Linked DNA regions of Homo sapiens. The protein of the gene in region 4 purifies or fractionates together with the protein of the main gene of each other region. This does not show direct contact. Each region holds a gene or a part of one and is shown on either strand. Other genes may lie near its edges.

The links.
Region 1: the proteins of HDAC1 (region 4) and MIER2 purify together in Homo sapiens (affinity purification with mass spectrometry; 5 studies listed by BioGRID and IntAct, with this or other methods). This does not show direct contact.
Region 2: the proteins of HDAC1 (region 4) and CHD3 purify together in Homo sapiens (affinity purification with mass spectrometry; 15 studies listed by BioGRID and IntAct, with this or other methods). This does not show direct contact.
Region 3: the proteins of HDAC1 (region 4) and ZNF217 purify together in Homo sapiens (co-immunoprecipitation; 7 studies listed by BioGRID and IntAct, with this or other methods). This does not show direct contact.

What each region holds. Positions count from the first base shown.
Region 1 is NC_000019.10:341,792-349,100, reverse strand, and holds the start of MIER2 (mesoderm induction early response protein 2), read left to right. Parts: upstream 1-4,304; 5' UTR 4,305-4,318; coding exon 4,319-4,327; intron 4,328-4,626; exon of another isoform or gene 4,627-5,276; coding exon of another isoform or gene 5,277-5,291; exon of another isoform or gene 5,292-7,309. UniProt on the Homo sapiens protein: Transcriptional repressor.
Region 2 is NC_000017.11:7,884,414-7,891,818, reverse strand, and holds the start of CHD3 (chromodomain-helicase-DNA-binding protein 3), read right to left. Parts: upstream 3,031-7,405; 5' UTR 2,997-3,030; coding exon of another isoform or gene 2,954-2,996; 5' UTR 2,819-2,953; coding exon 2,719-2,818; intron 2,156-2,718; coding exon 2,043-2,155; intron 1,249-2,042; coding exon 1,078-1,248; intron 880-1,077; coding exon 755-879; intron 1-754.
Region 3 is NC_000020.11:53,566,553-53,569,854, forward strand, and holds the end of ZNF217 (zinc finger protein 217), read right to left. Parts: intron 2,713-3,302; coding exon of another isoform or gene 2,564-2,712; 3' UTR 519-2,563; downstream 1-518.
Region 4 is NC_000001.11:32,323,070-32,330,102, forward strand, and holds part of HDAC1 (histone deacetylase 1), read left to right. Parts: intron 1-1,409; coding exon 1,410-1,484; intron 1,485-3,869; coding exon 3,870-4,008; intron 4,009-4,074; exon of another isoform or gene 4,075-4,389; intron 4,390-4,466; coding exon 4,467-4,608; intron 4,609-5,998; coding exon 5,999-6,091; intron 6,092-7,033. UniProt on the Homo sapiens protein: Histone deacetylase that catalyzes the deacetylation of lysine residues on the N-terminal part of the core histones (H2A, H2B, H3 and H4).

The DNA.
Region 1 (7,309 bases), on a different chromosome or scaffold from region 4:
CCAGGCTGGAGTGCAGTGGCGCGATCTCGGCTCACTGCAAGCTCCGCCTCCCAGGTTCACGCCATTCTCCTGCCTCAGCCTCCCGAGTAGCTGGGATTACAGGCGCCCGCCACCACGCCCGGCTAATCTTTGTATTTTTAGTAGAGATGGGGTTTCACCGGGTTGGCCAGGCTGGTCTTGATCTCTTGACCTTGTGATCCGCCCGCCTCGGCCTCCCAAAGTGCTGGGATTACAGGCGTGAGCCACCACGCCGGGCCTTGTTTGTTTTTTTAAACCTTTCAAAATGTGACTCATGTTTTGTGGCACGGGTTAGGTCTCCAGGAAATAGACTGCGAGACAAAGATTATGTGCAGGAATATTGTCGGGGTTACCCTTGGGGTCAACACCTGTCAGAGAGTGAAGGAAGCAGGGCTGGAGGGAGGGAGGAGCGAGCTGAGATGACCAAGCCGCCTCCAATCCTACAGGAGCTCTGCAGCCTCACGGTTGACCCCAGTTGGTCACAGGTGCCTGGGTCTTTATGGATCTGTACCAGCCAGTCGCTGATGTGGGCCGCCCCTCAGAGGGATACTTGACCCTGAGCAGAGGGGGAAGTTAGTGCTTGTGTAGGGGAGGGTTTGATGATGCACCCAGCATCCACCACAGGCCACCCCATGCACTACTCACAGCTCCTCCAGTATCTTGTGAGGCCTCTTTTTTCTAGGGAAAATTTGCAAGAACGACACTGCTTGGGTGAACTACAGCGTCCCCTGCCTCCCCGCCTCGGGGCTGCAATGGATTCATCACCCCCAGCTCCACCACGCAGTCTCCATCTGCTCCAAGAGGTGTAGCGATGCGGTGACCTGGACCCTCATCCCGGGACACCATGCCTCTGTCAAACTTGGGAGCTGCCCGGTGACCATGAAAACCAGGCAGAGAAGAAACAGGGAGCCTGGAGTGGAGGCACATGCAGGCGTATCTCCTCCAACGTGAGGTGTCCACTCAAACCACTGTGCCACGGCCAGGGGCACCCTCTCCAGCCTCTCCCCTTAAGCTCCCTGCTCAAGATTCGCTGCTCTTTATTTTCTGAGTTTTACTTCATTTTATGCTCATGGAATAATTGCAAGAATGAGTATAGTAGAAACCCTCCGTACTGGCCGGGTGCTATGGCTCACGCCTGTAATCCCAGCACTTTGGGAGGGTGAGGTGGGTGGATCACGAGGTCAACAGATCGAGACCATCCTGGCCAACATGGTGAAACCCCATCTCTACTAAAAATACAAAAATTAGCCAGGTGCGGCACATGCCTGCAGTCCCAGCTACTCCAGAGGCTGAGCCAGGAGAATGGCGTGAACCCGGGAGGTGGGGCTTGCAGTGAGCCAAGATTGTGCCACTGCACTCCAGCCTGGGCAACAGAGCGAGAATCCATCTCAAAAAAAAAAAAAAAAAAAAAAAGATTTACACAGGTTTATCTTTTCTGGCATTAACTTTTTTTTGTTGTTGTCGCTGTGGTTTTTTTTTTTTTTTTGAGACGGAGTCTTGCTCTGTCGCCCAGGCTGGAATGCAATGGTGCCATCTCGGCTCACTGCAGCCTCCACCTCCCGGTTTCAAGCGATTCTCTTGCCTCAGCCTCCCGAGTAGTTGGGACTACAGGTGTGCACCACCACGCCCGGCTAATTTTTTGTATTATTTTAGTAGAGATCAGGTTTCACCATGCTAGCTAGGCTGGTCTTGAACTCCTGACCTCGTGATCTTCCTGCTTCAGCCTCCCAAAGTGCTGGGATTACAGGTGTGAGCCACAGCGCCTGGCCTGTTTTGTTTTGAGATGGAGTTTTGCTCTTGTCGCCCAGGCTGGAGTGTAGTGGCGCAATCTCAGCTCACTGCAACCTCCGCCTCTCGGGTTCAAGTGATTCTCCTGCCTCAGCCTCCTGAGCAGCTGGGATTACAGGCACCCGCCACCACGCCCCATTGTGGCATTAACATTTCTGAAGAATACAGTCCCTCTTTTGTTTAACAGAATATTCCTTATTTGGGTTTGTCTGAAATTTCCTCATATGTAGATATGGGTTGTGCATTGCTGGCTGGATTCAGTGATGCCGTGTCCTGCTTTGGACACCACATCCAGGTGCACATGGTGTGCACCTGCCCTTTACCAGGGATGCTGAGTTTTATCACCCACCCAACAAGTGGCTTCATTTCTCCACTGCGACTAACAGTCTACGGAGACAGACTTTCAGACCTTAAAATATCCTTCACTCTTTTTTTTTTTTTTTTTTGAGACAGGTCTCACTCTGTTGCCCAGGCTGGGGTGCAGTGGCACAATCACTGCTTACCGCAGCCTCGACCTCCTGGGCTCAAGAGATCCTCCCACTTCGGCCTCCAGAGTAGCTGGGACTACAGGCACATTATCGTCATGCCCTCTAATGTTTAAAGTTTTTTTTTTTTTTTTTTGAAACAGTGTCTCACTCTGTTTCCCAGGCTGGAGTGCAGTGATCTTAGCTCACTGCAACCTCTGCCTTCCCAGGTTCAAGTGATTCTCTTGCCTTAGCCTCCACAGAATAGCTGGGATTATGGGCACTCGCCACCACGCCCGGATAATTTTTGTATTTTTAGTAGAGACAGGGTTTCACCCTGTTGCCCAGGCTGGTCTCAAACTCCTGACCTCAAGTGATCCTCCTGCCTCTGCCTCCCCAAGTGTTAGGATTAGAGGTGTGAGTCACCGTTCCAAGCCACAATACCCTTCTCTTCACCCAAGTCCTCATTTGACATCTATGTGATGATTCTTGCCAAGCCCTCTCCTAAGAGTCTTCCCTCGTTTTGCCAGGTGGACTCAAGCCCTTGTCTTCGGGCCCCTCCACCTGTTACAGCACAGCACCTCACTCTCTTATCTGTTCATGCTTCTCCCTGCTTCACAGGACCTCTGGCTACCCAGCACCCAGTTGAGGACTGCATAAGATATGTGTTTAGTTCACTGAATGACTGAATGAATAATAACAAATGAATAATAAAGGAAGGAACCAACTCTTGCACAAATCAGTGAGGACTCTTCAACACGAGGGCCAGAACCCTCAATCTCAATGATGTAAACCAAAAAAGGAGTGAGGGTAGACCCCTCCAGAGTGGTTCTTCTATCTCTTGGTTGGTGAATTCTCAGAGGACTGAGTAATGATTTTGCATCAGGAATCAAGGCTGATGCATGTCAAGTTCTCACTATTCATTGGCTGATCACTGGGAAACAGGAATGAGACTCATTCTCTTCTTCCTGGTCCCCAATTCCCTTCCTCCTGGTCCCCAATTCCCTTCTTCCTGGTCTCCAGTTCTCTTCTTCCTGGTCTCAGTAGGAACCGCCCTCCACTCATTTGCGCAAGCCAGACATCTGGAGGCCATCCTTCACTCTCTCCAGCTTCCCTCCATCAGCGAGTCTTGTGGTGTCCACCTTCTCAAGTCTCTCTGCACTCTGGTCCAGGCCCCACAGCTCCCACCTGGCCCCTGCCTCTTCACGCCCCACCCCTGCTTCCTATCCTCTCTCTGCATCGTGCGCCCCGAAGATTCACGGCACTTATCCGTCTCAAATTTAAGGTGTGGCGAGTCCTTGCCTTCCCATCCTCCACTCTAAACGCCCTGAAGACAGGCGTTAGGGCTGTCTCCTTCAAACCCTCAGGATCAGAACGTGCACGTGTTCCAGAAATGTTCAATCTGCGAAACGACGGACTGCAGAACCAAATGGCCCTGGGGTCAAGCCCACCTCCCTGCCTCCCGCCTTGGGCTCTCCGGCGCGGGGCCACCGTTTCTAAAACCTCTCCGACTGGTGCGCGTTCGCAAGCTCCCCGATTGGTTCCTCCGCGCGCTAGTTTGCTCATCACGGGTGCGAAAGTGCAGAAAATTCCAGAACCACGCAGCCCGGACACCAATTCTGGCTCTATCACTGACACTCTGGGTGGCCCGTCGCCCTGGGCCTCAGTTTCCTAGTCTGCCACGCGGGGTATTAACAGCGAGCAGCCGAGGGAATGAAGAGGTCACACAGGACCACGTGGTCCCCACGCAGGTGTGATTATCAGGAATTCGTATTTTTATGGAATGCAGTCTCCTCCGCCAAGGCCAAGGCCAAGATCAGGGTCCAGCAGAGACGGCCGGAAAGACACCGCAAGCTCGCCAGAAGCCGCCGGCCACGCTCGGCTGCGCGCCCGCGCCCGCGCCCGCGCACCTACTACGCGCCCGGCCCGCTCTCCGCCCCCTCCAGGCTCCGCCCCCTGCCCCGCCCTCCAGGCTCCACAGCCAATGAGTGCGCGGCCCCTCATCCGGGGATCCCGGCGCGGCCACCGCCTCCCGCGCACACACGGCCATGGCGGAGGTGAGTGAGCGGGCCGGGGGAGCCGGCCCCCCGCCCCCGCGCGTCCGCGCCCCCCGCCGCCGTGGCTCGGCCTCGTCGTGGGCCCCAGGGACGGAGAGCCCCGCTCTGGAGCTCTGAGGCCGGCCGGGGCGCCTGGCCCGTCCGGGGCCGGAGGGGCGCGGGGCTCCATCGGCGGCCGCCCCCGGCCGGCCCCCACCCCCCAACTCCCCCGGCTGCCACATCGCGGGCTGCAGTGCGCATGCGCGGCGGCGCGGGGCGGGCGGGGGCCGGGGTGGGGGAGGGGAGGGACGCGGGGCGGGGCTGGTGTCGGGGGTCCGGTGGGCGCGCGGCTCCGTTCCAGGGTCCGGCTCCGGTTCCCGGCCCCGGCCCGGGCCCCGCGGCGCGCAGGCCTCCCCTCCCGCGCCTTTGCCAACTTTGCCGAGTGCTGGGGCCGCCAGGCGCCCCGCGCTCCCCATCGGGATCCCGGTGGACCCACCGCGCCTCCGCCGCCCGCGAGCCCCCCGGCGGGGCTGGGTCAGACCCCGGGCGGGATTTGAACTCCCGACGCGGACCCGCCTGGCGCGAACTGGGCGCAGGGTGGGTGGGTCTGCCGGGGCCTAGAGAGCGTCGGGGCTGATCTCAGAAGAGTTGGACCAGCCTCTCCCGGGCACGAAGTTACTTCTGGAGCCTCCTCCCTCGTCCAGGAAACAAGCCCGGGACCCTTTATCTGAAATGTTTGGGACCAGCTATATTTTGGAATCCAGAATTTTTCCAATTTGAGGATCTGTGGGATTTTGGACTGTGATGTTTGATCAAACCCACCTAGGACTGTCTAGGATAAGACAACAGATAGCTTCGTGTCAGGTCAAACCAGGAAGGAAGAAACTTTCGCTTTTGAAGCTTTTTTTGATTTTGGAGTGGTGGATGAGCCTGTGTGGACTTGCTTTCACCTTGGAGGGCCCTGGTGAAGATGGAAAGAGATAATGTAGGTGAAGGTGCGGCGGCTGCGAGGTGCTCAGTCAGTGGGACTCAGTGCATGACTTCTGTGCGCAGAAGTTACGACAGGCGGGCAGACTCAAGAGCTGATCCTATCTCTGGGATAGAGCCCAAAGGAAAAGGTGCCCACCCAGCCAGGCACAGCCGCCTCGTGGGAAGCCGGGATTGGAACTGCGGCCTGGCCGTGGTGCCACGTTGCGTGTTTATGTCTTGGGCGTTGTGGGAGGCAGGACTGGCCATTCTCTCCCCCTGGTGACGACCTCAGGGGCAGTAACAGGCCCTGTGTTTATGCCAAAGACGGTGTAGGTGTCTCGATACTAGGCCAGACCACCGGCCAGTTCCTTCATCGAGAATTAGTTCTTCTTGAGACGCTTAGGGAGACTGAGTCCCCATGCAGATGGTGGCTGTCCTCCAGGGTCGGAGGCAGAAGCCGCGTCTCCCAGTGGCCCTGCAGCGACGTGGTGGTCGAATGAGTTGTGCTCCTGGAATCTGGGCAACACACGTGGCCTGACAGGTAGCTCTGTGTCTGGGATGGCACAAGTCAGACTCCCAAGCCAGCCTCCCCCAGAGCTGCCATGTGGCTGTTCTGCCCTGCTCTAGGCTGAGCTCCGTAAATGTGCACAGCAGCTTGTGGTCCGGCTGCTCCTGTTAACCCTGTTTTACACTTTGGGGTGGTGCCCTGTTGAGTGAATTTGATTTGATTTTCTAAGGAGGTCCCGCTCTGTCCTCGGCCTGAGGATCTGGGAGTGAATGGAGCAGACAGGGCCTCTCCTACAGGGATGCAGAGTCTGGTCAGAGAGAGACGTGGGTGGGTTAGGACCAACAAGTATGAGGTGCTGAGCGTGAGGAGCCATGGCAAGCTGTCTGACCACCGGACTTGTTCTGTGTGGTCTTGGGCAGGTTGCCCAGTGACTCAGAACTTCCTTTTCCTCATCTCTGAAATGGGAAGTTTAATGGTCACCCTTCAGAGCTAGGAGGTCTGATGAGGTCCTGCCACAACGGCTTGTACATGGAAGTTGAATCTTGTGAAGTTGACGATATTCCACTGTTTTTAACCCGTAAAAGTGGCAATTTGTAACTTTATAGCACGTGATCAGTACTAGCTACTTTATTCTGTATCAGTATCCCAGAATAATCATAAGCACCACAGTGGCAGACGGGAATGCTTCATACTTTTCTCAGGCATACTAGATTGATCTTTTAAAAACCTAAGAGCACCATCTTTTGCTCCTACCTAAAACCCTCCATGGCTTTTCATGGTCCCTGGGATAAAATGCTCCTCCTTGCTGAGTCCCACAGCCCTGTGAGGTGGTCCCCACGGATCTGCCCCCTACTCTAGGGCCCTGGGCTCCTGTTTGCTGGTGCACTCTACCCATTTGGGGGCTGCCAACGATGGTTCCACCTCGACTGAGGCCCCCCAGGCCTTCCCTGACCCGCAGTTGCAGAGCCCGTGCGCCCTGTTTTCTCTTCTCGGTACCATACATGTCCACTTGTTTGTTGTCTGTGTCCAAAACTAGCAACTCCATGTGGGTGGAGGCAGGTGGAACTTGTTTCTCAGGTTAACCACCACGCCACTGCCTTGCTGAGCCCAGAGTGGGCGCCCAGGGAACATTGGTCAGACGGAGGAGTGGGGTGCTGGGTAGTCCAACAAGCGCCTGGCACTTGAGTTGGTGTGGGTGGGAGGAGGGTCAAGCATGGCTCTTAGGAGGAGGTTGTTTCAGTCACACTGGGGAGAGGGCTTGGGGCATGGGAGAGGTAGGTGCAGCCATCTTGGCGAATGGAACCTGCCACCCTGTCATTTTGGGTTAAGCTTTGCAGGGTGGCCTCTTGTGTTTTTGGTGCACTCTATACCTGTGGGGGCTGCCCTGGGGGAAGGGCTGGTCTGTGCTCTGCACCCAGTCCTCTGGTGCAGTCTTTATGTTGAGTAGCTGGCTGCCGCTTCTACTGCCTGAAGACCCTGGTGGACGCCTGGGTCTGTGGCCTGTTGTCCTCTGGACCTTGTTTCTA
Region 2 (7,405 bases), on a different chromosome or scaffold from region 4:
TGTGATCTCGGCTCACTACAACCTTTGCCTCCCGGGTTCAAGCGATTCTCCTGCCTTAGCCTCCCGAGTAGCTGGGATTACAGGCATGTGCCACCACGCCCAGCTAATTTTTTTGTATTTAGTAGAGACGGGGTTTCACCATGTTGGATGGGCTGGTCCTGAACTCCTGACCTCAGGCGATCCACCTGCCTTGGCCTCCCAAAGTGCTTGGATTACAGGCATGAGCCACTGCACCTGGCCCATCTCTGCTATTTTCTACTCTACTATTCTCTACTTTTCTTCAGGAGCCACTGAAGCTCAGGTCCCACTGCCAGCAGTGGACCCTCCATTATTACCAGGGCCTAAGGAAGGGGCACAGGACCTGCTAAGTGAGCTAAGGAAGTTCAGGAACACTGATGGTATCTCTCAGGTCCAGTCTAGAGAGAAGTCACAGAGCAGAAGATGGAGCTGTTGGGGCAGGGGAGGGCTCACTATATTCTGTCCTCACTTTATTCTGTTGCTAAAGAGTTCTCTAACCCAGCACTGGAATCATGATGGCCCCTCCACCCCTCGCCCCTCAGTGAAGAGTTCTCAACTGGGGTTCTTGGATCCTTATGAGTCTAGGAGTTCCCTGAAATGACGTGTAGAATTTGGTGTGTATACACCGTGAATTCTCTGGAGAGCAGTTTCATAGCTTTCATCAGATTCCAAGGGGTCCAGGACCTCCCTCAAATTAAAAGTGTCAATTAGCGAGGATTCCCCAGTCTTACCGCACCTCATGAACTGGCTGAAGGCTTTGTAGTTGGTGAGCGTGTGGTAATCCTCCTCAGAGAACACATGCTCCACATCCTCCAGGCCCCAGGTCAGAAGCAGAGTTGCTGATGACTTCTGTTCCACTTGCTGCGGGAGAGGGGCTTTGGTGAAGTAGGTGCTCCTCCAGCCCCTATTCCAGGCCGCACACAGGCCTGTCTACCTACCCACTAGCTTCCCTGGGCTTTCTTGCTTCTTGCCCCATTCTCCAGTCCAGTCTCCATTCCTCCCCTCCTCATGCCCGTCTTTAATGCAGATTTCTCACTCTCATTCCCTAATTCTACTCACCTTTTGCCCCCCATCTCCCTCCCCCTTTTTCCGCCGCTTTGTCTTCTTCTCCTTTTTTTCTCGGTGCTTCCTTCTTCGTTTCCGACCCGGTCCGGTTCCATATTCACTGCCCCCACTCTCTGACTTCTCCCGGTACTCATCTCGCTCAGAACCAAATTCCTCCTCACTGTCCTAAGAGAAAGAAATAAAAATAACATTTATTCATCCCTACCATTGCCAGAAACTGTTCTCAGCACATACCATATCTTACCTCTTTTAATCTTCACAACAATCCTGTGATAGTAACTAATTTTTTATCTCCTTTTTTTTTTTGGAGATGGAGTCTTGCTCTGTCACCCATGCTGGAGTGCACTGACGTGATCTCGGCTCACTGCAACCTCCACCTCCCGGGTTCAAGCGATTCTCCTGCCTCAGCCTCCTGTGTAGCTGGGATTACAGACGTACCACCGCGCCCGGCTGATTTTTGTATTTTTAGTAGAGACGGAGTTTCACCACATTGGCCAGGCTTGTCGCGAACTCCTGACCTCAAATGATCTACCCGGCTCAGCCTCCCAAAGTGCTGGGATTACAGGCGTGAGCCACTGCAACCGGCCTTTATCTACTTTTTACAGATGAGGAAACTAAGGCACAGAGAGCCAAATAAACGGCCTGGTATCCTAGACAGAGGAATGCTGGACTCTTGAATTCATACAGTCTTCCAGAGCTTGTGCTTTCAACTGCTTCTCTTTGCTGCTGAGGACACACTGACAACGAGGCTCTTCACTAGGTTGCAGTGAATGAAGTTAGGGTCCCAGATCCCTGAGATACAGGCCAACAGTGGCAGGGAAGTGGGGGGCCCGGGGGATCAAGCCTCCCTGGCTTCAGAACCCCACCCCCACACCAGTAATCAGGACCAGAGAAAATGTAGGTCTCTGAGAATGGGTCTCTTGAGCCTTGCCACAGAGTTAGGAATTCTTGACACTTACACGCTTCTTGCGTTTTCGGGGTTTTCCTGGCTTGTTCTCCTTCTGCTTCTTGGGTCCTCGTTTTCTCTTCTTCACACCCAATGCTGACGGCAGCAGCCGAATGTCATCCTTATCTTTGAAGCAAAAAGCATCAGAAAACCTAAGCCTCTAGGTTTCCAGCCTCTGAGGCCCCTCAACTTGCCCCTTCCCCACCTCGGCAGTTCCCACTCTCTAGGAAGCATTAACTCCTCCAAGCCCTGCCTCCCTTCACTGGATGCAAACAGAAAGTGTTTCGAGTACTCTGGGATGCTCTGGTTCTGAATGGGAGGTCAGGGGTCAGAAGAGAAGAGCAGCCAAACCACTCCCCTCCCTCCCCTCCTACTAACAAGAGACCAGGCTCCAGGCCATGGGCTCTGACTGTGGCAGGTCCTTTCAGTCACCGCCAGGGCTCCTCCTGCCTTCCCCCTCACTTCGCCAGCTGGCATCCTGCCCAGGAACTGGGGAAGCCATGCCCAGCTGCTGGCCTGGCCTGACCCCAGCACTTGGAGTGGGGAGACACAAGCTGGCAGCTCCCTAAGCCAGATGCTGGGGAGGGAGAGCCAAAGGTGGACACCTGGGTTCTCACACTAACACCCTGGGGCCCTGACATCCTTTTGCCAAGAGGGAGGCCTCTATTTACATTTCCTCGGATAATTACCAGGCATCCTGTCACCCCAACACAGTCCTGGAGGAAAAGAAATCCTCAGCTGGTCATTTTTACTTCTTGCCCACAGGATCACAGTGTCTGCCGCCTTCATCACACAGGAGAAAGTCTCCACAATTACCTAAATATTCCTCCTCCCAAGTAGCCTAAAACCTACCTTCAATTCTATTCCCATCTCCCTGCTCCCTTTGGGAACTAGGGGGCCATACCCTTTGTTTCCCGATCTCACCCTTCACCTCCATATTTTGTTCCAGATATCCTGACCCATTCATCTATACGCAGTATGGGAGACCCAAACAAAGATATAGGCACAGACAGACACACCCAGCATATGCCTTCTCAAAAGCACGCGCGCGCACGCGCGCACCCACACCCACACACACTCTCAGGCCCACAAATCCAGAGGATGGCCTGTACCTGCTTCAGCAGGGATAGGTCCCTGGCTTTCTCCCCAGATGTCTCTGCCAGAGGACCCCAGGCCCCCCACCCCATTATCTGTGAAGGTGTCACTCTGTGAAGGCTTGGGGAACGGAACGGAGAGTTACCCCACATAAAGGAAGACAGGATGCCCCACAGACCTGGGGCCCTGGGGCTCTGGTTCACGTCCCTCCCCTACCAAGCACTAGACTAACCAGCCAGACCTGTCTAGTACAGAGAGAGGCAGCCGATGCAAGATGGGAAAGCCTGGGCTTGGCCCAGCCCCTAGCTCTAGGACACACAATCCTTTCTCCTTCCCTCAACAGCCAACGGAAAATTAGCCACAATTAACACCAGAGGCCTCCGTTTCCACTGCCTCAGAGTCGCTGCCTCGCCTTCCTTCAGTGCCACCTTTCCTGCTAACTCCAGCATCCTGTGTCCCCTTGTGCAGGAAGACACTCTAGGACTGTGTGCGTGTGTGCAGGGGGGTGGCTGCCAGAGCCCGGGTGTGAAACGGAATGGGGACTGTAATAGGAAGTCAGCAAGGAAGGCGCCATGCCCCAGCAGCCGGCTCCCCCTGGCCCCAGGGACTTCGGTTGACTTGAACATGGAAACGCAGGCTGCCGAGGCAGTGGCAAGGGCAGGCCAACTGGCTAAGGTTCAGGGACACGGCCTCGGCCACCACCAGCCAGGGGTGGTGCACAAGCCGGTTCACTCTACTCCCCACCCCAGCGGGAGGTTCCCGAACTTGGGCAGGCGTCGGTGGCGGGAGAGGCAAAGCGAGAACGGCAAGGAAAAGCAAGGAAGGGTAATAAAGCAAATCTAAGTCCCAACCTCGGTCTCAGCAGCCACTCAATGCTGGCCTGGAGCCCAGACTCTCCCACATCCCCGGCTCGGATCTCAGGGAGGCAGGGAGGAGAGAGGCGGGGGCCGGAGGGCGCAGGGCGGAGCCTGGCCGCCCGAGCAAGCGGGAGGAGTCTCGGCCGAAGCCTCGCCTCCCGCCCGCCCCTCTCTTCTTCTAATCTCACCATCAATCTCTCACACATATATTTATTTTTTCTCAAATTCCCCTCCCTCCCCCACAACGCACCACCATAATAGGTCTGCTGCACATGCGTACTGCAGGCAGGGGGTGGGTTTGTATTTTCAGACCTTTTGCAAAGAAACTACCAGAATTTTCCGCACCACCCACAATCATTCCCCACCCCCACCCCCAAGGAATCACATCTATATATTATGTTATATTATTTCTCTCGACTTGCCAGAAGGGGGAGGGAGAAGAAATGAGTTTTTGGCTTCCTGCTCCCTTCCCCCACCAACACGACTGCTATTATTTTAAACGTTTAACAATGTAAGGAGACTGGAGAGAGGGGGAAGGGATAAAATTGGTCTTGAGTAAGAATGTAAAACAAAATGGTGAGAATCAAAGCAGTCGGAATGGAAAACAATGGAAATCTCTCCTGTGCACAAATGCATACTCTAGACAAGGAAGAGCGAGGGCAGCCTGAACAAATTTCCTTAGAGGAGGGTTCTTTTCCCCACACTTAGGTAGACAGAAATAATGAGTGTGCTAAAAATAATTTCCCGAAGTTTTACCTCCGAAAGTCATCTGAGGGGGTGTATCTGGGTCACTCATTCGACTTGGAGGGCTGAAAGGGAGATAAAAATTGCCCAGGGGGAGAGGGGAGGTGGGTTTTCATTTCAGTTGTAAAATGTAAGCAGCCTCTGACGTCTCTTCTGGTCTATTCAGAAAGCCAAGAGGGAAAGGGGAGGCCGGGTTGACACAAAGACCCATCTCAACCTCGGATCCTTTCACGCTTCTCTCCCCAACGTACCCAGATCCGGGACCCACACCACCCCACCCCAGACTCCAAGTCCCAATACAAATAGGTGAGCGCTGCCAAGCCCCTGGCAGGACCTGACGGCCTTTCTTTCCCTCTTTTCAGCGCCTCTGCCGGAGGCAACCCCAAAGGCACCCTCTCCCCACAACTCCTCATTCCTCCTCCTCCTGCCAAGGCAGGGGGCTCTCTGGGAGAACTTTTTCAAAACTTTACCCTTTTTCAGACAAGCTTGGGGGGCGGGGAGACTTTATCCAGTTTCCAGGAGACACACATCCCTCCCCGACCCACAAGAAAGCACCCCCCGCTCCCCCAAAGGTCGTCTCGGCTAGACAGGAACGTTTGCCACAGAAGCCACACGGATCAATATGACAGTTTTACAAAGAGCCCGGAGTTGGCCGTTTTGAAGTTTGGTGCATTTGTGCCGCATGGCAGCCAGAGGCCCGGGGGTGCGGAGGTCCCCCTGCTGTTCCCCAAGCAGGGGGTGTGGACACCCAGATGCTCACCTATCCCAAAGAAGACTAGAAATCACTCCACTAGGAGGGTGGTCTGAGGGGGACACCGCTGGGCGCCTGACGCGGCGCAGCGGTCTGGAGAGCGCCGCCCAGAGAGTGCCGCCGGGTGACTTGTCACCTCGGGGGACGGGTGCTGAGTGATGGTCAAGCTGCAGAACAGCTGGGTGGGCAGTTCACGCCCCCCAACGTGCTCAGGGAGTGGGTGGTTTCAGCGAGAGAGTGAGTGACAGTGAATGGCAGCCACGTGAGAGTCACAGCTGGGCAGCTTGGCCACCCCAGACTGACGGGGTCAAGAGGGGGACCCCCCCCACCGCACTTGACACAAAAGAGCCCAGAGCCCCGGCGAGATGAAGGGGGTGGAGCCGGGGGTATCTGGTTCCCCAGACACTCTTCTCTCCGCTCCCCAATCCGAATGGACTGCTGTCCCTGCACAGGCTGGGGGAGCGAGGGGACGAGCTCCTGCCTTATTCCAGGAAGTGGTCTGCGTGGACTGTGGCCACCACCTGCCCCTACTCATCAGCAGCCCACAAACATTCACAAGACCCCTCCCTCGCGTGCCACCGCATGCCCCTCAGTTGGCGGGCACCTAAGTCTCCGCGGGTGGAGGGGGGTCCGATGGACACCGTCCCCACTCTGCCTGTCCAAGTCCTGAGCGGAGGGGGCAGGCCCGTCGGCTGCTCCGTGCGGGGAAACCCCACTCTCCCTCGGTCCAACCCCACCGGGGCCAGAGCCCGAGGGGCGCTCGCGCGGCCGCCCCTCCCCCACGTGCCCCTCCCCCACGCCGCCGTCCGGCCGCCAGGGTCTCGGCGGTCCCTCGCTCGGCCAGGGAGGGGGCCCTGGCTTCGCCTTGGCCGTTTCCTGCCTACCCCCTCCCCGCCGAGGGTAAAAAAAAAACCTCCTCCTCCTCCTCCCCCGAAAGCCGCGACCGAGTGGCCCGGTCCGCGCGCGCAGCTCGCGCCCAGCGCTCTCCAGCCGGGGTGGCGGCGGCGGCGGCGGCGGCGGCGGCGGCGGCGGCGGGGGAGGGGTGCGGCGGGGGAGGGGAGGAGGCCTGGCCCCGCGGTCGCAGCCGCCACCGCCCGCCCCGACCTCCCGGACCGCCGCGGGGCCACGGGCCCGAGCCCCGGATTCGCGCTCCGGATTCGCCTCGGCTCGGCCGCGCGGTGGGTGCCTCGCCCCCGCCCGGCTTCGCGCGCCCGCGGCTCCCACTCGGGCTTGGGGGGGGAGTCGGGGCGGGCGCTTACCTGGCGGCGGGGGCGGCGGCGGCGGGGGCAGCGGTGGCGGCGGCGGCGGCGGCGGCGGGAAGAGGTGGCAGCCGGGGGGGCTGTGGCGGTCGCGGCCCCGGTCGTGGCCCGGCCCGCGCCCGAGTACTCCCTCGTCGTCGTCCTCCTCATCGTCCTCGTCGGCCGCCTCCACCTCCTCCTCCTCCTCCTCGTCGCCCTCTTCTTCCTCCTCTTCTTCCTCCTCCGACACCACCATCTCCTCCTCCTCCTCCTCCTCGTCCCTCAGAGGGGAAGCCATCCTGTGGCTCTGGCCCCCCCACCACCCCCCCACCCACCGCCCGCCCGCCTCCCCCACCGCTACCACCACCACCTCCTCCTCCTCCTCCTCCTCCTCCTCCTCCTCCTCCTCGGCGGCGGCGTCCTCCTCCTCCTCACCGCCTCCCCCAGCCCCCCAAACCCCCGGGCCACCCCCCTCCGAAACCCCCACCCTCGGGGCCGCCGTCTGAGGAGGGGGGCCAAACCACCCCCAAAAATTGTCTTGGAAAAAATTGAGGAAAGACTTTTTTTCCTTCTCTCTTTCCTCCCAAGAGAACAAGAAAGGGGGATTTAAAATATATATATATATACATATATATATATATATATATGTATATATATAAAAGTTTTCGACTTCTCTCTGCCCCCCTCTCCG
Region 3 (3,302 bases), on a different chromosome or scaffold from region 4:
TTTGAGATGGAGTCTCGCTCTGTTGCCCAGGCTGGAGTGCACTGGCGCAATCTCAGCTCACTGCAACCTTTGCCTCCCGGGTTCAAGTGATTTCTCATGCCTTAGCCTCTTGAGTAGCTGGGGCCACAGGTGTGCACCACCACACTCAGCTAATTTTTGTATTTTTAGTAAAGACGGGGTTTCGCCATGTTGGCCAGGCTGGTCTCAAACTCTTGGTTTCAAGTGATCCACCCGCCTTGGCCTTCCAAAGGGCTGGGATTACAGGCGTGAGCCACGTGCTGGCCTTAAAATTGTGTTTATAAGCCAGGCATGATGGCTCGATACTCGGGAGGCCGAGAGCTGGAGGATCAGTTGAGCCCAGGGGTTCAAGGCTGCAGTGAGCTGTGATTGCACCACTGCACTCCAGCCTGAGTGACAGAGCAGGAGCACATCTCAAAAAAAAAAAAAAGAAAGAAAACTAAAAAGTTAAATAAAACAAAATCAGAAACCAGAAACACAATAAACACTAAAACTCAAGATTGCAAAACACCAAATCTATATTTACACTTCCACATATAATAACATAACTTTAAGCTGAAATATATCATAAATAAAACAAGTAATGTCTACTGTTCGACAACTTAAGTATCAACAATTAAAATAAATCAAACTGGAATGAAATAAATACATAAACAAAAATCCAACGAATTGTACCTCTATTATATGTACTGTTGTCTCAAAGAAAAAAAAATATAAAACCAGTAGTATACCAATAGTTAATACTGATGGACACAAAAACATATTTTGAAGTACAAAGGGCTGTAGGAAAATAATTGGTATTTTTATACATTCAGAAATGTGGTTAAAAAGAGAAATCTGAAAGCCCAAAAAATTCCAGCATAATACAAATCGACTTGTTTTCAAATAGATTTGGTGATTCTTTTTTTTAAATACAGGTTTAAATTCCAGCCCTCTATTATCACATACCCCCTTTAAGATTTATGGTTCTAGTCACAGCAAGCTCTCTGTAACACTCATTGGATTAGGCAAAGATTGAGTCAATCATCTTGCAAATGTGTTAATCTTCAAAAATAGGCTATAAAAGTGCAAAACTATGAAAACAAAATCTAGATTATGTACATATGGCTCAGCTTGTGAACAGGAAAAAAGGTCAATAGTGTACACTTTCCTGATACAAAGCACTTCATTGCAATGCCAACAGACTGATCTCAAATGAGTTCTCCCTTGTAACACAGGAGCTAAGACTTCTATCAAGGAGGACATCTTACGTTGCATAATTTAAAAAAAAAAAATTTTTTCTAGGATTACCCTTGCTCTATGGAGAACAGCGAGGCCAGAAAAATGAACAGTGCAAATTTATTTTTGAAACAGTTTCTTAATAAAATATTTTGTGGTCACTAAGCCCATGTACTAATAAACTCAGCCATGGACAGCATATTAAAGAACAAAAGTTTAAAATATCTAGGAAGCCAGCTGGTGGCCATCTTCTCTAAAACCCAAATTGCATGTGCACTGAGAAAAATGTTACTGCTTCAAAACAACCAAAAATGGGAAAATAACTGAGGTCTAGAAACAGATTTTCTCTTTCTAGACTCCCAGCGGGCTCGGCCAGCAGTTCCTTATTCAAAATCAATGTGTCTATAATCAACTCTAGTATGTCCACAGTTCACCCAAATGCCAGATACATTAAGACTACCAAATACAAACCTAAAATGTTCCCCCCAAAATTTCCCTTAAAACTGTTCCCCAATACCTGCAATTCACAGATATAATTTAGCATTTTTGTTTTTATATACTAATTTAGGCAAAACCCCCCCGCCACTGAATCGTCCAACAAAAATGATTAATTTGACAGAAACAAATTTAAATAACTGCACATACAGTTTATGTTTATACAACGTGTGGCTGCTCTACAGAGAAAATGCTTGTCTGTAGACACACTCTCTTAAAAATCCTACAAGCCATCCCAACGCCCTCAGTCAAGGATCCTGGAGGTTCCAGGACAATCTGGAGAGGCGAGGAAGAAGGTGCCTTCCCCATCTGAGATGCTCAAAGTTGCGATAAAATGCTGCCAGCTTCCGAATGGCTGACCTCGATATCTGCAGCACATATCATAGAGGGTCAATACTTCCATTAACAATTTTAAGACAACAATAGATTTGGGTGGATTCAACATAATACAAAATCATTGACAGTTTAAAAAAAAAAAAACATACATTTTAAATGAAAGAGCACAATAGCAGAAACTGCTCCAAGTGATGAGCTGCATTAGAGAAAAGGAATACACACAGTATTTGAACAAGCAGGTTTACAACTTAGATATTTACAGATTTTTACCTGAGGTGCAAGCATTATATACTTTTCCCCCATCCCGCCCCACCCAACCCAAATGATTTCTTTTCAGCAGCGCTCAAGTATGCAAAAATTCCACTTCTTATTTGGTCAATTCTAAGAAAAATATTATTCAGGGACAAAATAGAGATTTCCAGTCCCCATGTATGTAAGTTCCAACTGTTCCAACTAGTTTGTATTGCTATTTGGTACAAAAGTTAACAGAACAACTTTACACAACTGTAGTGTTCCTTGCAGATTCCTCATATGTTTTATGTACAGTACAATCACAGCTTATTTCAGTAGCTTTCACCATTCGCTTCTCAAAGGATGAAGTAAAATTTAATTTCATGGGGAGTAAGCACTGACATCCACCAAGACCTAAGGAAAACAACATTTTTTAAATGATTAAGATCAAAACTGAATACAGTTTAGAAAATTCTTTCTTTAAAAAAGCGTAATACATAGAACCAAACTGACCTAGAAATGCAATGGGTTCTATTTGTTGTTGTTGTTTTTGAGACAGTCTCACTCTGTCGCCCAGGCTGGAGTGCAGCGGCACGATCTTGGCTCACTGCAACCTCTACCTCCCAGGTTCAAGCGATTCTCCTGCCTCAGCCTTCCAAGTAGCTGGGACTACAGGCATGCACCACCACGCCCGGCTAATTTTTTTGTATTTTTAGTAGAGAAGGGTTTCACCATGTTGGCCAGGCTGGTCTTGAACTCCTGACTTCAAGTGATCTGCCCGCCTTGGCCTCCCAAAGTGCTGCGATTACAGGCATGAGCCACTGCGCCTGGCCCTGGGTTCTATTTAAGTTCAACTTTTGCTATGAAAGTATTAGGAGAATGACTAACTAGATAATGCTGCGAACTTTGGAGCTACTTTTAGTAATTTAACTGAGATGACTTAACCAAGAATCAGAATTCAGTAAAAGGCAGTTGCCATGCACAAGAAAATCCCAGCTACTCAG
Region 4 (7,033 bases):
AGGCGGGCGGATCACAGGGTCAGGAGTTTGAGACCAGCCTGGCCAACATGGTGAAACCCCGTCTCTACTAAGAATGCGGAAATCAGCCAGGTGTGGTGGCAGGTACCTGTAATCCCAGCTACTCGGGAGGCTGAGGCAGGAGAATGGCTTGAAACTGGAGGGCAGAGATTACAGTGAGCCAAGATCACTTCACTATACTCCAGCCTGGGCAACAAGAGCAAAACTCCGTCTCAAAAAAAAAACAGACAAACCAAAGCTTGAGGCTTGCATACTGCTTCTGCCATTTACTAACAGCTCACCTCTCTGAACCTGTTTCCCTACTTATTTATTTATTTATTTTTTTGAGACAGGGTCTCACTCTTGTCTCGCCCAGGCTGGAGTGCAGTTGCGCGATCTCAGCTCACTGCAACCTCTGCCTCCCGGGTTCAAGTGGTTCTTGTGCCTCAGCCTCCCAAGTAGCCGGGATTACAGGCAGCTGCCACCACACCTGGCTAATTTTTATGTTTTTGGTAGAGATGGGGTTTCTCCATGTTGCCCAGGCTGGTCTTGAACTCCTGGCCTCAAGTGGTCCTCCTGCCTTAGCCTCCCGAAGTGCTGGGATTACAGGTGTGAGCCACTGTGCCAGGCCTTGTTTCCCTACTTATAAGATGGGACCAAATCTTACCTCAGAAGCTTGTGTGAAGATGAATGATCTCGGGTATTTAACGCATGTAGCGCAGTGTCTGGCGTGTTGTACGTGCGCAGTGAACGATAGTTCTCTGGGTCTCTGTTCTTGCCCCTTGTTTGTCAGCTGGCGTGAGGGCCAGAGGATAAGTTTTTCTCCCTCAAGAAACGAACCAACATTTTCCAAGTTGCTAACTGCTTCTCCATATTAGATTTTTGTTAATTTTCTGACCAGTGGGTGAGGTGGGATATCAGTTTTGCTTGTTATAGATAATGGGCTAAGACCAGGTGTGATGGCACATGCCTATTGGGAGGCCAAGGCAAGAAGACTGCATGAGGCCTAGGGAACATAGTGAGGCTCTGTCTCTAAAAAAAAAAAAAAGAAAAAAAAATTAGCTGGGTATAGTGGCATGCACCTGTAGTCCAAAGTACTTGGGAGACTGAGGTGGAAGGATTGCTTGAGCCCAGGAGGTGAGGGTCAAAGCTGCTGCACATGAGCCATGTTTGTGCCACTGCACTCCAGCATGGGCAACAGAGCAAGCCCCTGGCTCTAAAAAATAAAAAAATAATAATGGGCTAAAGCTCAAAGATGTTAAACAACTTGATGCAGTCATACAGCCAGGAAGTAGAGCCTGGACTAGAACCCACACCTCCTGAATTTAAATTCTGTGTTTTTTTCCATCAGCTCATAAATATGTAAACTAAAGGAAATTGTGGAAACTAACCTTTTGCTTATTTCTTTCAAGTCAACGTTGGTGAGGACTGTCCAGTATTCGATGGCCTGTTTGAGTTCTGTCAGTTGTCTACTGGTGGTTCTGTGGGTAAGGAATATTCATCTTCTCCCCAGGGGTAGACTGGGTTGTTCTAGTGAGGTCTGCCTTTTAGGCTGCTATCCTAGTTGGCTGATCTGAAACCATGTAGAATGGTCCTGTGGTTTTTACTGAAGTCTCTAAAATGGCTGGTGTAGTGTCTCACACCTGTAATCCCAGCACTTTGAGAGGCTGAGGAGGAGGATTGCTTGAGGTCAGGAGTTCAAGACCAGCCCAGGCAACATAGACCCTCCTGTCTATAAAAAAATAAAATAAGTAAAAACAATTAGCCGGGCATGGTGACTCGTGCCTGTAGTCCCAGCTACTCAGGAGGCTGAGGCTTAAACCCAGTAGGTTGAGGCTGCAGTGAGTCGTGGTCACACCACTACACTCTAGCCTGGGCAACAAAGCAAGACCCTGCCTCCAAAAAAAAAATTTAAAAAGCCTCTAAAATGTCCCTCTGGTTCAGTCCCAGCCCAGGTTCAATCTCTGACATGGTACTGACAGGTGTCCTTGACTGTCCTTTCCTACTAAGAGATCTTATGTACAGGCGTTCCCCGCAGACCTCCTGGGGTTGTTAAGATGCTGTACGTAAAAGCAATTTGTGAACTGCAAAGTGCTATAAAAATGGAAGTGTCATCATCTGTGAATCTGTCCTATGAAAAAGTATGGTAATTACCTTTAGAGGTCAGAAATACTCCTCATGTATCTCCCACTTCCATTTGCAACTTTTGGGTTATCTCCAGGATTACTCTAAACGCTTTCTTAACAAATATTTATTTTCCTGTGATCCCCCACCAATATAATCATTGTGTCCATCCCCGCTGCCCCACCAATATAATCACAGAAAACAAAGAAGTGCACAGAAAAAAACACAATCACCCACAGTCACAGGGTTGGTGGATAACCTCTGTTACCATGTTGGTGTTTGTATGGCCATTCTTTTGTGTGTGTGTTTATATCTGTGTCACACATATACAACATCTATATTTTACAAAAGTGGGTTATATACATATCACATATATATGGTTTTATGCCTGCATTTCCTACTTAACGAAATTGTCTGTAGTTTTCTACAGCTTGCTTTCTTGTGGCTCTATGATTATTCCATGTTGTGGATTTACTTGAGTTGATATAATCTGTCCCTCTTCTTGATAATTTGGATCAATCTATGCTTTTATTGCTGTTAAAATCAACACTGCAGCTGGACACGGTGGCACATGCCTGTAATCTCAGCACTTTGGGAGGCTGAAGAGGGTGGATCACCTGAGGTCAGGAGTTTGAGACCAGCCTGACCAACATGGTGAAACCCCATCTATACTAAAAAATACAAAAATTAGCCGGGCGTGGTGGTGTGTGCCTGTAATCCCAGCTACTTGGGAGGCTGAGGCAGGAGAATTGCTTGAACCTGGGAGGCGGAGGTTGCAGTGAGCCGAGATCGCGCCACTGCACTTCAGCCTGGGTGACAGAGTGAGACTCCATCTCAAAAAACAACAACAAATTAACACTGCCACAAATGCACTTGCACACATGGGTGTGTATTTATCTTTTACTTCTTCTGGGACCTATTCGTGCTAGTGCTTTTTGACCTAGTGTATCAGCACTATCTTTGGTAATTTTTCTTTTTCTTTTTTTTTGAAATAGAGTCTCCCTCCATCACCCAGGCTGGAGTGCAGTGGCGTGATCTTGGCTCACTGCAACCTCCGCCTCCTGGGTTCAAGCGATTCTCCTGCCTCAGCCTCCCCAGGTAGCTGGGACTACAAGTGTATGTCACCACGCCCAGCTAAATTTTTTCGTATTTTTAATAGAGATGAGGTTTAACCATGTTGGCCAGGCTGGTATCGAACTCTTGACCTCAGGTGATGTGCCCGCCTTGGCCTCCCAAACTTCTGGGATTACAGGTGTGAGCCACCGCGCATGGCCTATCTTTGGTATTTTTTCAAAGTTCCTTGACCATGAGCCATAGTAAGAAATAAATTTACACATGCAATCCAGGATACATATAACATATGCATGCATGCACACACTCACTCACTCTGAAGCCAGAGTTTTACAAAAGAGCAGTTACCCTTACTGTTACTCTGATATTTTTTTCTATGCTATTTCATTAAAAAAATATATATATATATACACACACACACTAATCATGATGTACTAAATCAATTTTAAGGCCTGCTAATGGGTTACTACCCTCAGTTTGGAAAATCGTTTTTTACGAGTAGACAGTATCATGTATTCCCTGCTGAAGTAGGGTGGGAGGGAGGGGACTGGTCTATGAATTGCACAATACAGCTGTTGAATAGGCAGGTCTTAACCTTTCACTAGGTTCCCTGGGCTTCTTGGAGGAAGGGGAGAGTGGCTTAGTAACAGGCTTATGTTCTCTTTTCTCATGCCCAGCAAGTGCTGTGAAACTTAATAAGCAGCAGACGGACATCGCTGTGAATTGGGCTGGGGGCCTGCACCATGCAAAGAAGTCCGAGGCATCTGGCTTCTGTTACGTCAATGATATCGTCTTGGCCATCCTGGAACTGCTAAAGTATGCCTGCCTGGCCTTGTCTCTTGGAAGAGCACCTTAGGCCAGGTTCCCATTTCCCTCTTCCCCTGGGCTTGCCTCCCTAGTTTGCTTTTCCTACCGATGTGCTGGCTAGGATGTGCTCGGTGAGTGTCTCTGGCCATCATCTCCTTGATGGGGTCTTGGTTTGATCTGAGCCACGGCATGATCAGGGGCAGATGCTGCTCAGATCCTGCCTCCAGAGTGTCCCTGTGTGGCTGGAGTTGACCCTGGCTGTAGAGTAGGAAGATCGGACTTGGTCGGCTTGGTCAGGCCTCTGGAGACACCCGGCCGCTCTTCCACCTTCCTTCAGCCAGTTTCCACGTCTCTGGTGCTTAGAGATACCTGAGGGAGGCAGCCAGCCCGGTAAGCTGGGAGCTAGCGCCCTTGGCACGTCCCATCCCCAAAGAGCCCCCAGACCCCTGACCCCCTTCTGATCCTAGGTATCACCAGAGGGTGCTGTACATTGACATTGATATTCACCATGGTGACGGCGTGGAAGAGGCCTTCTACACCACGGACCGGGTCATGACTGTGTCCTTTCATAAGTATGGAGAGTACTTCCCAGGAACTGGGGACCTACGGGTGAGAACGCCCTTTAGGAGCCAACCGGCTTACCCTCAGCTGGCAGCTCTACTTCTCTCTCCTATCTCATGCCACTAAAAATTGCTTCTTGCCTCTTCTGCCAATCAGAATACCACATCCCAATCTGAAGCACTTGCCCTGATCTCTTTCCCTTCCTTATTCTGGAGGAAGGGAATGATGGGACATAAAGGGCCAGAGAAAGAAGAGGGGTCTCCTGACTCACTGTACTTTCCTCCTGGCCACAGCTGGGTTGCATCACACTATTCTTATGTCTCATAAGCCTTGAGTTTGGGGGTAGGAATTGGGACTCTGAAGGACATCTCAAGTGTTCTTCATGTTTTTGGGTCACTTTCCCCTTTAGCCTTTTGACTGAAAACTATGGACTGTCTCTCCAGAAAAGTACATGAGATTTTACATCTGATATAGAATAGTTAATAGACAAGTCCCCTTACTGAAGCCCATCCATGAACCTTAGGATAAGAATCCTTGGAAGCTACTTCGTTGAACTGTTCCATCTGCTTCTATTAGCATGAATGTGGTGAAATCAGCTGCTTTGCCATGCCTGGTAGCCCTTGGGTAAAAAAGTGGCACTAATTCAGTTGTTTGCCATGGCAAGCGTTAGAATAAATGAGCATTCACTTTTTTTTTTTTTTTGAGACAGTCTCTCTCTGTCACCCAGCCTGGAGTGCAGTGGCGTGATCTCGGTTCACTGCAGCCTCCGCCTCCCGCCTCCAGGCGATCTTGTGCCTCAGCCTCCGAATAGCCGGGATTTAGCTGGGATTATAAGTGCGTGCAACTATGCCCGGCTAATTTTTGTATTTTTAAAAGAGATGGGGTTTTGCCATGTTGGCCAGGCTGGTCTCGAACTCCTGACCTCAAGATTCACCCGCCTCAGCCTCCCAAAGTGCTGGACTTAAATAGGCGCACTCACTATTTTGAGGTTACTGGGAAGGACTTTCTTACCTCTCTCCTTCCCTCCACAACACCCTAGAGAGGGAGCATGGGGGAAGAGGAGTGAGCATTAGAGCTCTCTGGAGTGGAAAGGGTTGTCAAGGGTGGCTGTCACTTCTGTGACTCACCTGCCAGCCAGCTCTAACCCAATCCCAAGGTAGAAATCTTGTGCTATAGGGTAGGCTATTCAATCTCTGGTCCCATCAAGAGCTCTCAGTCTGGGGGTAGGCTTAATGCTATGTCCAGAGATGATTTGCCAGTGAAGCTAGATTTGCCAGTGAAGAGAATGGTACTAACAAGGTACCTCTGTTCTGTCCTGGCCCACATCATGGGCCTAGCTTGTCTCTCTTGAACCTCTTCCTTTATCCCTCCAGCCCCTATCCTTGACCTTCCTTCAAGCTTCATCCTTCAGTTTTACTTTAATGGCCTTTTTAATTAGGATATCGGGGCTGGCAAAGGCAAGTATTATGCTGTTAACTACCCGCTCCGAGACGGGATTGATGACGAGTCCTATGAGGCCATTTTCAAGCCGGTAAGTGGCTTTATCCACCCCTTGGGCTACAAACAGGGGATTGGTTGGCGGTGGAGGGGAGCAAAGCACCCCCACCATACCTCAGGAATCTCTCCTTACTAAAGCTGGTGGGGAGATAGAAGTGTTTGAACCCTGGATTGCTGTGTGGTCAGTTAGGGGAACAAACACCCATATTTATTGGTTCCTTCTATGGGTCAGGTCTTCTGCTGGATACAAAAATATCTAAGACATGATCTTTGCCCTCACGGACTATGGTGGGGAAGGCAGGCACATACCCAGTAGTCTATGATTAGTACTGTTTTTGTATCTCCATTTCTTTGGGCTGCTGGGAGATTATTGTGTTCTTTTGGTAGTGGTATGTCTCCTTGGTTTTTTGTGTTCCTCATTGCCTTACATTGATGTCTGCACATTAGAAGAAGTAGGGACTTACTCCAGTCTTTGCAGACTGGCTTTGTCTGGGAAAGCCCTTTGCCAGTCAGCCCATCCAGAGATTCTGGAAAGGCTGTGTGGCATGTTCCATGGGTAGGCTGGCCTAGTGCCTGTGTTTTTGAGGGATGATCAGAGGAATGAGAGACAAACTACTGCCTGGGCTGGCAGGAGGGTAGCCAGGGATGATTTCACAGAGGTGCTGATGTTTAAGCTGGACTTTGGAAAATGAGGAGGTGCCCATGTGAAGAAGGAGGTGATGGCAGTAAGGGTGGCATTTAGTAGAAGGAATGGCACTAGCAGAAGTGCAGAGGTGCCAGTGTGGCAGCATGTAGGCCAGTGTGGTGTATGGGAGGAGTGCTGAAGGAGGCGGTGGGAAGTGTATGCTGGGCTCAGTATTTCAAAGGGAGCCTTGAATGCCATGCCAAGGAGTTAAATCTTCACTTATAAACAGTAAGAAACTGCTTAACCTAATAAGGTCAGGTAGTCATTCAGCAAACACTGACTGCCCACTAT